Linked DNA regions of Homo sapiens: region 2 is linked to region 1. The links come from fine-mapping of genetic effects on gene expression. A gene starts in region 1. The other region holds a variant in brackets. All regions are shown on one strand. Distances are between the middles of the regions.

Region 1 (5,379 bases):
CATGGTGCCATTATTAGGAAGCTAATAGGATACCTTAATTGGCAGAGGTAGAATTACATTTTTTCTCTGCAGATGCAATCATACTTAATAGTTTTATAGCGAATGATGATTGTATAATTACAATATGGTAAATAGTTGATAAGTTTTCAATGTTTAAGAATCAACCTATAAATAAAGCATAAAAGACTTGTACTGATTGATGTCCTGTGGCTCCTTAAAATGTGTAAAACCCAAGTGTAGCCCGACCACTTTGGGCACATGCTGTCAGGACCTCCTGAGGCTGTCTGTGACACGTCCTTAACCTTGGCAAAATAAACTTCTAAACTGGTTGAGACTTGTCTCAACTACTTTTTGGTTTTCATCCTCTATTACCTTCCTGAGGCTGCTGTAACAAATGACCACAAACTGAGCAGCTTAGACAGCATAAATTGATTGTCTCACAATTCTAGAAACTAGAGGTCAGAAATCAAGATGTCAGCAGGGCTATTCTCTCTCTCTGAAAGCTCTAAAGAAGGATTCTTCCTTGCCTCTTCCTAGCTTGTGGTGATTACTGGCAATCTTTAGCATTCCTTGTCTTATAGACACATACTGCAATCTTGCTGCCTCCTCCTTCCTGGCATGGCATTCTCCCTGTGTGTCCATGTGTATCCAAATTTCCCTCTTCTTATAAAGATACCAGTCACCAGATTAGGGCCCCCTTTGATTCAGTATGACCTCATCCTTACTTGAATTATATTTGCAAAGACCCTATCCCAAGTAGTTCACACTCACAGGTTCTAGGGGATAGGACTTAAACATGTCTTTTTGGGGAACACAATTCAACCCACAACACCCCCTACAATCAATTTTCCACACAGCAGCCACAATGATCTTCACAAATGTACATCGGGTCCTGTCCACTCTCCTGCCTACAGAGCTGTCTCCCTGGCCTCTTTCTGCTTCTCAAACTTCTTCTACCACTTTCCTCTTACACTCCAGCCACACTGGCCTTCTTTCTATCACTCCAACACATCAAGCTCATTCCTGCCTCAGGGCCTCTGCCTAGAAATTTGTCTGGCTCCCTTCTTTTCATCATTCAAGTCACAATTCAAATGTCACTTCCTCACAGAAGTCTCCTCTGACTTACGTACTAAAAGCAACACATCCTACAGGTATTGTCTTTCACATAACCTTAGTTTCTTTGCAGCACTTACCAATACTAGAAATTATTTTACTTATTTAAGTTCCCCTCTTACTTGAACATCAGCTCTATTGAACACAGATTCAATCACTATAGCCCTAAATGCTAAAACAGGACCTCACAGACAGTTTTCATTTTTATTCCGTCAAATACATCTCTTTTCCTTCATGACTTAAGACTAGTGCTTAGCACAGAATAAATGCTAAAAAAAAAAAAAATTGACTATTACTACTATAATAGTTTGCAATTATTTGTTTGTACAATCTCCCTGCCTAGACTGTGTGACCAAAGACAGAAACCCATTTATTTGGCATTTTACCAAGCCCAGGGGGGCCAGGCACAGTGGCTCAGGCCTGTAATCCCAGCACTTTGGAAGGCCGAGGAGGGCGGATCACCCGAGGTCAGGAGTTCGAGACCAGCCTGGCCAACGTGGTGAAACCCTGCCTCTACTAAAAATACAAAAATTAGGGTGTAGCGGCGCGCGCCTGTAATCCCAACTACTCGGAAGGCTGAGAAAAAGGAGAATCCCTTGAACTCCAGAGGCGGAGGTTGCAGTGAGCCAAGATTATGCCTCTGCACTCCAGCCTGGGTGACAGAGCGAGACTTTGTCTCAAAACAAACAACAACAACAAAAATCCCAGGAGTCTGGATCACATTAAGCATTAATAAGAAGTGCTGAATATAATTAGCGAATAACAATTCTGAAGAAAGTTATCTTCTTTGATACTATGGATTCCTGATGTTAAAAAAAAATTTTTAAGATAGAATATGGGACTGTCCTTCCTGCTTTTTGATTTGGTTCAAATCTGAGGAAGTGGGGGCGACCAGTCTTTAACAGATCTAGCAAGACTGTCGAGCTTTAGGGAATGGTAATTTCTCTAAAGCCAACACTCTATGTCCATTATATTGGAGATCAAAACAGACAATGGCATTTTTTCTAAAGAGGGGGAGGGAAAAACAAAACTTTTTGTCTAATTTGGGGATGCAGTCAGACGTGACTTAGTTCATAAACACACACATTCATCTGGCGCTAAACCTCACATAAGGAACCTTACCAGCTTCCTTGATAAAACAACACCCCAACACTTCAATCTAGAGATGGAGGGTAAAAATGTAGGGTTGTGATGTCTAGCTGCCCATTCCACGAGAGTCGCCCACCACGCCAAATTCGGAGGCTTGCGGTATTCACCTACGGGGAGATGGCGGGCTACCTCACCCCAGGTTTCCCCTAACACAGAGTTGCAGTCGCTGAACAAACTGCCCTGCGTTAGTCAGAAGCTGTTAAGTAACGAGATGGCCACGGTCCACAGCAGAAGAGATGGAGATAAGCCTCAAGCGGGAAAAATGAAGTGTACAAATGCCAAATGCGGAGAAAAAGAAGAAAAGCTGCAAGAAGGCAGGTCAGTCAGGAACACCGCCATTTCTCACATCTCATCGCTACTTCGAATTTTCTCATCTAAGGACCCGCACCCGCACGGTTCACACTGTCTTCTTCCCGCTATCACTCCGTGTGGGTCAAACCTCTGCCTGCCCACTGGAGAGCAGCGGGAATGGCTTCAGGAAGCGGCTGCCGCCTCCGAGACTCACCGACCTGCCGTGCTGCCACTTCTACACCGAAATGGCTGGTCCGAGGCCGCGTCTCCAGAGCTGCGTCCCAGAAGCCCCCGCTTTCGATCCCCACCGCGATGCTGCAGCCGTCCGAAAACGAGAGACGCGCAGGCGACGTCCCGGCCCCCGTAGGCGGACGGCTCCGCGACCCCCGGATGTTGATATGTCGTCTGCCCCGGAAACGGTGACAGGAGGCTCAAGGGGGCGGAGGCGGCGTTGCCGGGCTCTCCGGAAGGAGACGTGGCGGCGGTTGGGCCGGTGATACCCGGGCGCTTTATAGTCCCGCCGCCTCCTCCTCCACCTCCTCCTCCTCCTCCTCTCCTCCTGGAGCAGAGGAGGTTGTGGCGGTGGCTGGAGAAAGCGGCGGCGGAGGATGGAGGAAGGAGGCGGCGGCGTACGGAGTCTGGTCCCGGGCGGGCCGGTGTTACTGGTCCTCTGCGGCCTCCTGGAGGCGTCCGGCGGCGGCCGAGCCCTTCCTCAACTCAGCGATGACATCCCTTTCCGAGTCAACTGGCCCGGCACCGAGTTCTCTCTGGTCAGTGCCCTCACTAACCCCGCAGCCACCCCTCCTCCTGACACTAAGGGTTCGGCCTCTTCCCTCGGTTTTCTTTGCTTTTTCTCCCCAAGACCTTCTCTGCAGACTCTTACCTTCCCCAAGCCAAAGCTGCTTTTATGCAGCGTTCATTCATTCGTTCGTTCTCACGTTATGTGGATGCGTCCCCCTTGCTGAGCATTAGGGATCCAGCAATCACCTGCTCTCCACCTTTTCAATTCTGTCGCACTAGACCTTGCTTCCCAACATTCCCACCCTGCAGAAGCAGCTTTCGTAGAATAACGTCAGGTGCACTTACTCATCTTCCTTTCGGAAAATTAACTGTGGCTCTTACTTCACCAGCAGACTTCTTTCCTTCAGTATTACATGTCACCCTGCCCACACCACAGTACTTCAGACTCGAGTTCCCTCTCTCGTATTCGTTCTCCCTCAGTTGTATACACACACGGACATACGCAAACGCACAGCTCCAAGGGAACTTTTTCCTTTCCTAGTTGTTTCTGAGAGGGCTATTTGGCCTGTGAGATGTTAACGACCCTTTATGCAGAATATCCTTTACAGTTTTCATGTATTACGACTGTTATTTGAGTCCCCAGAACATGAGCTTCTATGTTGAGTTTTCCTGTAGTGAAGAACATTTGTAACCTCGCGGAAATGAAAATTCCCTCTTGGGGGAGTGGACCGCTGAAAAGTCTTCCTGTCCACGTGTACCTACTGCAGGCTAATAAATATTGTACTCTTATGACACTTACCATGTAGTAATTAACTCATTTACTTCAAATTGAAGTCCCGGAAAAAGCAAAATTTTTTTAAACTTTTTATTCCAATTACCTTCAAGCATTCAACTTGCAATACTTTATTATATTCTTTCATTACCATTTCATTGAAACAGTAAGTGACACTATGATGTCAAAACAAGATGTGTCAAGTTAATGGATGTTATTACCACATAGCTTTCTATTTGCAAGTGTTAGGGGTTTTTTGGTTTGGTTTGGTTTGGTTTGGGTTTTTCTGTTTTTGTTTGTTTTTTGAGACAGGGTCTCAGTCTGTTGCCCATTCTGAAGTGCAGTGGTACGGTCACCACTGGCTGCAGCCTCGACCTCCTGGGCTCAAGAGATCTCCTCAGCTTCCCAGTAGCTGGGACTATAGGGAAATCCCACCACTCCTGGCTAATTTTTTTTTTTTTTTCTAGAGGCAGGGTCTCACTATGTTGCCTAGGCTGGTCTCGAACTCCTGGGCTCAAGCAATCCTCGTGCCTGAGCCTCCCAGAATACTGGGATTACATGTGTGAACCAAATGTTCTGAATTTATCTAGGTAAATATTTTTCTGGGACGTCAAATTTCTCTTTGTATTAATGCCACAAAATATTGATACATTGAAATACCTATGTAAAATTTTGTTATGAATCAGATATAACTTTAGCAGGCTTGGAAGAGAATACTTTAATACCTGTTGTTGTATCCAAAGAGCACACTTGGAGTGAATATGGCAGATGTTTGAAGAATTATGTCATTAAAATTTTTTACTCTTGGCACCTGTGTTTTTTTTAATTTAAAAAAACTTGCTGATATGCAGCCCTGAAAACTTACTATAAGCGAGCGACTAAAACTAGCATTTTTAGAGGTCACTACCAAATTGTCATTCCATTTTCTTTCAGTCTTAGCATTTGCTACACCAACTTTTCACGTATCTAACAATTTTATTTCAAAAAAAAAATGCTTTGGCCATGTGCGGCGGCTCACATCTGTAATCCCAGCACTTTGGGAGGCAGAGGCAGGCGGATTATGAGGTCAGGAATTCAAGACAAGCCTGACCAACGTGGTGAAACCCCATCTCTACTAAAAACACAAAAATTAGCTGGGCGTGGTGGTGCACACCAGTGCTCCCAGCTACTTGGGAGGCCGAGGCAGGAGAATCGCTTAAACCCGGGAGGTGGAGGTTGCACTGAGCCAAGATTGCACCACTGCACTCCAGCCTGGGTGACAGAGTGAGACTCTGTCTCAAAAAAAAAAAAAAAAAAAAAAATTCTTTTTTTAG
Region 2 (5,379 bases), 28 kb before region 1:
ATCTTACTATGTTTTATTTAGGTATTATAAGAAAAGGTTATATATAAAATAATTTCCACAATGCAAGGAATTGTATTATGTGCAAACTTCTCAGACAACCCTCAGCAGAGACTTCATAATGCACACAAGATGCATGGAAGAAGTCAGTGAAGAGGAAGAGGTTGAAAGGCATTACAAAGAAAGTAGACACTGTTAAGAAAAGTGACGAGAAAATACCCGAAACACATATAACACCGAAGGATTAATATCCAGAATACATAAAGAGCTCTTTAAAGATAAGGCAAGGCCTAATGCAGTGGCTCATGCCTGTAATCCCAGCACTTTGGGAGGCCAAGGAAGGAGTATCACTTGAGGCCAGGAGTTTTGAGACCAACCTGGACAAAATAGTAAGACCCCCCCCCCACCTCTACAAAATATAGAAAATAAAAAAATTAGCCTGATGTGATGGCATATGTCTGCGGTCCCAGTTATTCCAGAGACTGAGATGGGAGGATCACTTGAGCCCAAGAGTTGGAGGCTGCAATGAGCCATGATCACACCACTGTACTCCAGCTTGAGCAACAGAGTAAGACCCCATCTCTTTAAAAAAATTTTTTTAATTAAAAAAATAAAAATAAGGTAAGTCTAGAACTTCCAAAGGGAAATCCTGCCTGTCTAACGACATCATTCTAATAGTAGAATCCAGCAGTCTCTGAAGAGACCCATCACTCAGATTTACATTTACTTGAGCTACTATATTCCCTTTCTTTGCTTAAGCTAGTTTGAACTAGGTTTCTTTCACTCAGTACTGAAAGAATCCTGATTAACATAGCATACAATTTAGCAGTATCTATAAATATTTTAACTTGGCATGGTGATGGTTAATTTTACATGTCAACTTGACTGGGTTAAGGGATGCCCAGATAGCTGCTAAAACATTTCTGGGTATATCCATGAAGATGTTTCAGGAAGACATTACCATTTGAATCAGCAGACTGAATAAACAAGACTTGCCCTCACCAATGTGGGCAGGCATCATGTAATCCTTCAAGGACCTAAAAGAAAAAAAAGGCAGGGAACCCCCTTTGGGTCCCCTCCCATTGTATGGGAGCTCTGTTTTCACTCTATTAAATCTTGCAACTGCACACTCTCTGGTCCGTGTTTGTTCCAGTTCAAACTGAGCTTTCACTCACCGTCCACCACTGCTGATCACCGTCGTCGCAGACCCGCTGTTGACTTCTACCCCTCCGATCTGGCAGGGTGTCCACTGCACTTCTGATCCAGCGAGGCGGCGCCCATTGCCACTCCCAGTCGGGCTAGAGGCTCACCATTGTTCCTGCACAGGCTAAGTGCCTGGGGTTCATCCTAATCGAGCTGAACAGAGCTGTAACACTCACCGCATGACCCAAGATTCCATTCCTTGGAATCCGTGAGGTCAAGAACCCGAGGTCAGAGAACAAGAGGCTTGCCACCATCTTGGAAGCAGCCTACCACCATCTTAGGAGCTCTAAGAACAAGGACCCCCCAGTAACATTTTGGTGACCACAAAGGGACCTCAAAAGCGGTGAGTAATATTGGACCACTTTCACTTGCTATTCTGTCCTATCCTTCCTTAGAATTGGAGGAAAATACCGGGCACCTGTCAGCCAGTTAAAAATAATTAGTGTGGCTGCCAGACTTAAGACTCAGGTGTGAGGCTATCTGGGAAAGGGCTTTCTAACAACGTCCAACCCTTCTGGGTTGGGAGCGTTGGTCTGCCTGGAACCAGCTTCTGCTTTCAATTTTCCTGGGGAGGCCGAGGGCCGACTAGAGGCAGAAAGCTGTCGTCCCGAACTCCCGGCGTTAGCTGGTTGAGATCATGGCGCAGCCGAAGTCTCTACTCAACAGTCGCCCGTGCATGCACCCCTACCTTTCCTTCTGACCCATACCTCCTGGGTCCCGACCATGACTTTCTTGAAAGTGTAGCCCAAAATTCTCCTTACTTCTGAATCTACTTCCTCCGATCCCTGCCTCCTAGGTACTAATGGTTCAGACTTCATTTCCTCTCCCAAGTATTAGAGCAAGTTGTATCTCCAAAGGGATCTAAGGAAGTTCTATGCTGTGTCCTTAGGTACCTAGGCT[A/G]TGAACCCAGGGAATCTTGTCCCTGGTGTCCCAGTTTAGATATACAGCTCTCAACATGGGCAGTTATGTGGGACCCATTCCCCACCACCCTTGCCAGGGCCCCAAGTTTGTAAATGGCTAGGAGGATTGCTCTCTCATCATGTAAGATGCTCTCCTCCCCTGATTTTTACCCAGCTTATCCCTCTGCAATACAATCTCCAAGCCTTGGCTCCTTGGCCAGGGCCTTGAAACTCATGACCCAGTACTTTAACAACTGGAACTGGGTCTATGACAACATAATAGATCAGGATGAAAGCGAATTAAGTAACTCAAGGAGAGAAGAGACAGAGAGAGAGAGAAAAGAGAGGGAGAGAGAGAAAAAGAGAGATAGAAGTAGTAAAGAAAAAACAGTGCACCCTATTCCTTTAAAAGCCAGGGTAAATTTAAAACCTATAATTGATAACTGAAGGTCTTCTCTGTGACCCTATAACACTCCAATACTACCTTGTTGTCAGTGTAAACAAGGGCGTAGCCTGAAAACACTGAGACCACTGACAACACATAGCCTTCCTATCAAAAATCCTTAACCCAGTAACCCACGGAAAAAGGCACATGGGATAAACAGGATCCATCTCTCAAATTTCATACCGGCAAGGACTTAATCCGGGGCAACAAAAAGTTTAAGATTGATAATTAGGGCGTATTCCTACAAGGGAAAAGGACAAAGGCCCTAGTGGGCAAAAACTCTACCTCAATCCTAACTCAAAAGGTTACCTACACCCTCTCTGAAAAGAATTTGCATAAGAACTGTTGTTTATGGGAACGCATCTTGATGGGGCAGCTGGGTTGTTATAAAATACTCAGGAACCCAGCCCAGCTCTAGAACTCACCCTTGAGCGCAAAGGCAATATTGGGCATGCTGGTAAAGGACCACTAGAATCCAGCAGCCCGGACCCCTTTCTTTGTGGTCAAGAAAGGTGGGAAAAGGGGTGCAGGACTGCTACATTGGTGAGTGTAACTAATCCGATAAGCAGAGGTCCATGGGTAGTTGTACACCCTGGAAAGGAATAAGCACTAGGACCACAGAGGACGCTCTAGTCCTCTGGGATAATGCTCATTGGAAAATGACTAGAGGTGCTGGCATCCCTATGTTCTTTTTTCAGATGGGACATGTTCCCCACAAGGCAAAAACGCCCCTAAGATATATTCTGGAGAATTCGGCCCAGAGTGTATGTACCTTTTTCCCTGTCAGACTTGAAGCAAATTAAAATAGACCTAGGTAAATTATCAGATAACCCTGATGGCTATATTGATGTTTTACAAGGGTTAGAACAATGCTTTTATCGGACATAGACAGATATAATGTTGCTGCTAGATCAGACGCTAACCACAAAAGAGAGAAGTGCCACCATAACTGCAGCCAGAGAGTTTGGCAATCTCTGGTATCTCAGTCAGGTCAATGATAGGATGACAACAGAAGAAAGAGAACAATTCTCCACAGGCCAGGAGGCAGTTCCCAGTGTAGACCCTCACTGGGACGCAAAATCAGAACATGGAGATTGGTGCCGCAGACATTTGCTAACTTGCGTGCAAGAAGGCTAAGGAAAACTAGGAGGAAGACTATGAATTATTCAATGATGTCCACTATAACACAGGAAAAGGAAGAAAAATCCTACCGCCTTTCTGGAGACACTAAGGGAGGCTTTGAGAAAGCATACCTCTCTGTCGCATGACTCTATTGAGGGCCAACTAATCTTAAAGGATAAGTTTATCACTCAGTCAGCTGCAGACATTAGAACAAAACTTCAAAAGTCCGCCTTAGGCCCGGAGCAAAACTTAGAAACCCTACTGAACTTGGCAACCTCAGTTTTTTATAATAAAGATCAGGAGGAGCAGGCAGAACGGGATAAACGGGATAAGAAAAAGGCCACCACTTTAGTCATGGTCTTCAGGCAAATGGACTTTGAAGGCTCTGGAACAGGGAAAGGCTGGGCAAATCGAATGCCTAACAGGGATTGCTTCCAGTATGGTTTACAAGGACACTTTAAAAAAGATTGTCCGAATAGAAATAAGCCTCCCCCTCGTCCATGCCCCTTATGTCAAGGGAATCATTGGAAGGCCCACTGCCCCAGGGGACGAAGGTCCTCTGAGTCAGAAGCCACTAACCAGATGATACAGCAGCAGGACTGAGGGTGTCCGGGGCAAGCACCAGCCCACGCCATCACCCTCACAGAGCCCCGGGTATGCTTGATCATTGAGGGCCAGGAGGTTAACTGTCTCCTGGACACTGGCGCAGCTGTCTCAGTCTTACTCTCCTGTCCTGGACAACTGTCCTCCAGATCTGTCACTATCTGAGGGGATCCTAGGACAGGCAGTCACTATATACTTCTCCCAGCCACTAAGTTGTGACTGGCGAACTTTACTCTTTTCACATGTCTTTCTAATTATGCCTGAAAGCCCCACTCCTTTGTTAGGGAGAGACATCCTAGGAAAAGCAGGGGCCGTTATACACTAGAATTAGGAGAAGGAAAAAGGGTAAATATATATAAAGACTCTAAGTATGCTTACCTAACTCTCCATGCCCATGCAACAATATGGAGAGAAAGGGAATTCCTAACTTCCGAGGGAATACCTATCAAACATCAGGAAGACATTAGGAGATTATTTTTGGCTCTACAGAAACCTAAAGAGGTGGCAGTTTTACACTGCCAGGGTCACCAGAAAGAAAAGAAAAGAAGTAGAAGGGAACCGCCAAGCAGATATTGAAGCCAAAAGAGTTGCAAGGTAGGACCCTCCATTAGAAATGCTTACAGAAGGACCCCTAGTATGGGGTAATCCCCTCCAGGAAACCAAGGCCCAGTACTCAGCAGAAGAAATAGAATGGGGAACCTCAAGAGTACATAGCTTCTTCCCCTCAGGATGGCTAGCCACTGAAGAAGGAAAAATACTTTTGCCTGCAGCTAACCAATGGAAATTACTTAAAACCCTTCACTAGACCTTTCACTTAGGCATTGATAGCACCCATCAGATGGCCAAATCATTATTTACTAGACCAGGCCTTTTCAAAACTATCAAGCAGATAGTCAGGATCTGTGAAGTGTGCCGAAGAAATAATCCCTGGCACTTCAGGCCTACATTTCAATCCCTGTATCTTTAACCTCCTTGTTAAGTTTGTCTCTTCCAGAATCAAAGCTGTAAAATTACAAATTGTTCTTCAAATAGAACCCCAGATGCAGTCCATGACTAAGATCTACCGTGGACCCCTGGAACAGCCTGCTAGCCCATGCTCCGATGTTAATG

What was found.
Region 2: its variant is fine-mapped to the expression of ASB3 in whole blood (TOPMed, PIP above 0.99). The same link has a PIP of 0.9 or more in monocytes and non-classical monocytes.

The regions. Positions count from the first base shown.
Region 1 is chr2:53,784,050-53,789,428 of GRCh38, forward strand. ASB3 (ankyrin repeat and SOCS box containing 3) reads right to left here and starts at 2,904. Exons shown (of 10, transcript NM_016115.5): 1 at 2,772-2,904. The region is part of intron 1 of GPR75-ASB3 (GPR75-ASB3 readthrough); the gene reads right to left. ERLEC1 (endoplasmic reticulum lectin 1) reads left to right here and starts at 2,995. Exons shown (of 14, transcript NM_015701.5): 1 at 2,995-3,323. The coding sequence starts at 3,162. RefSeq lists enhancers at 2,394-3,052, 2,568-2,987.
Region 2 is chr2:53,755,586-53,760,964 of GRCh38, forward strand. All of the region lies in intron 2 of ASB3 (ankyrin repeat and SOCS box containing 3), which reads right to left. The region is part of intron 2 of GPR75-ASB3 (GPR75-ASB3 readthrough); the gene reads right to left. Among named protein-coding and RNA genes, the nearest start is that of CHAC2, 9.5 kb to the right of the region's middle. The variant A/G (reference allele first, on the strand shown) is at 2,101.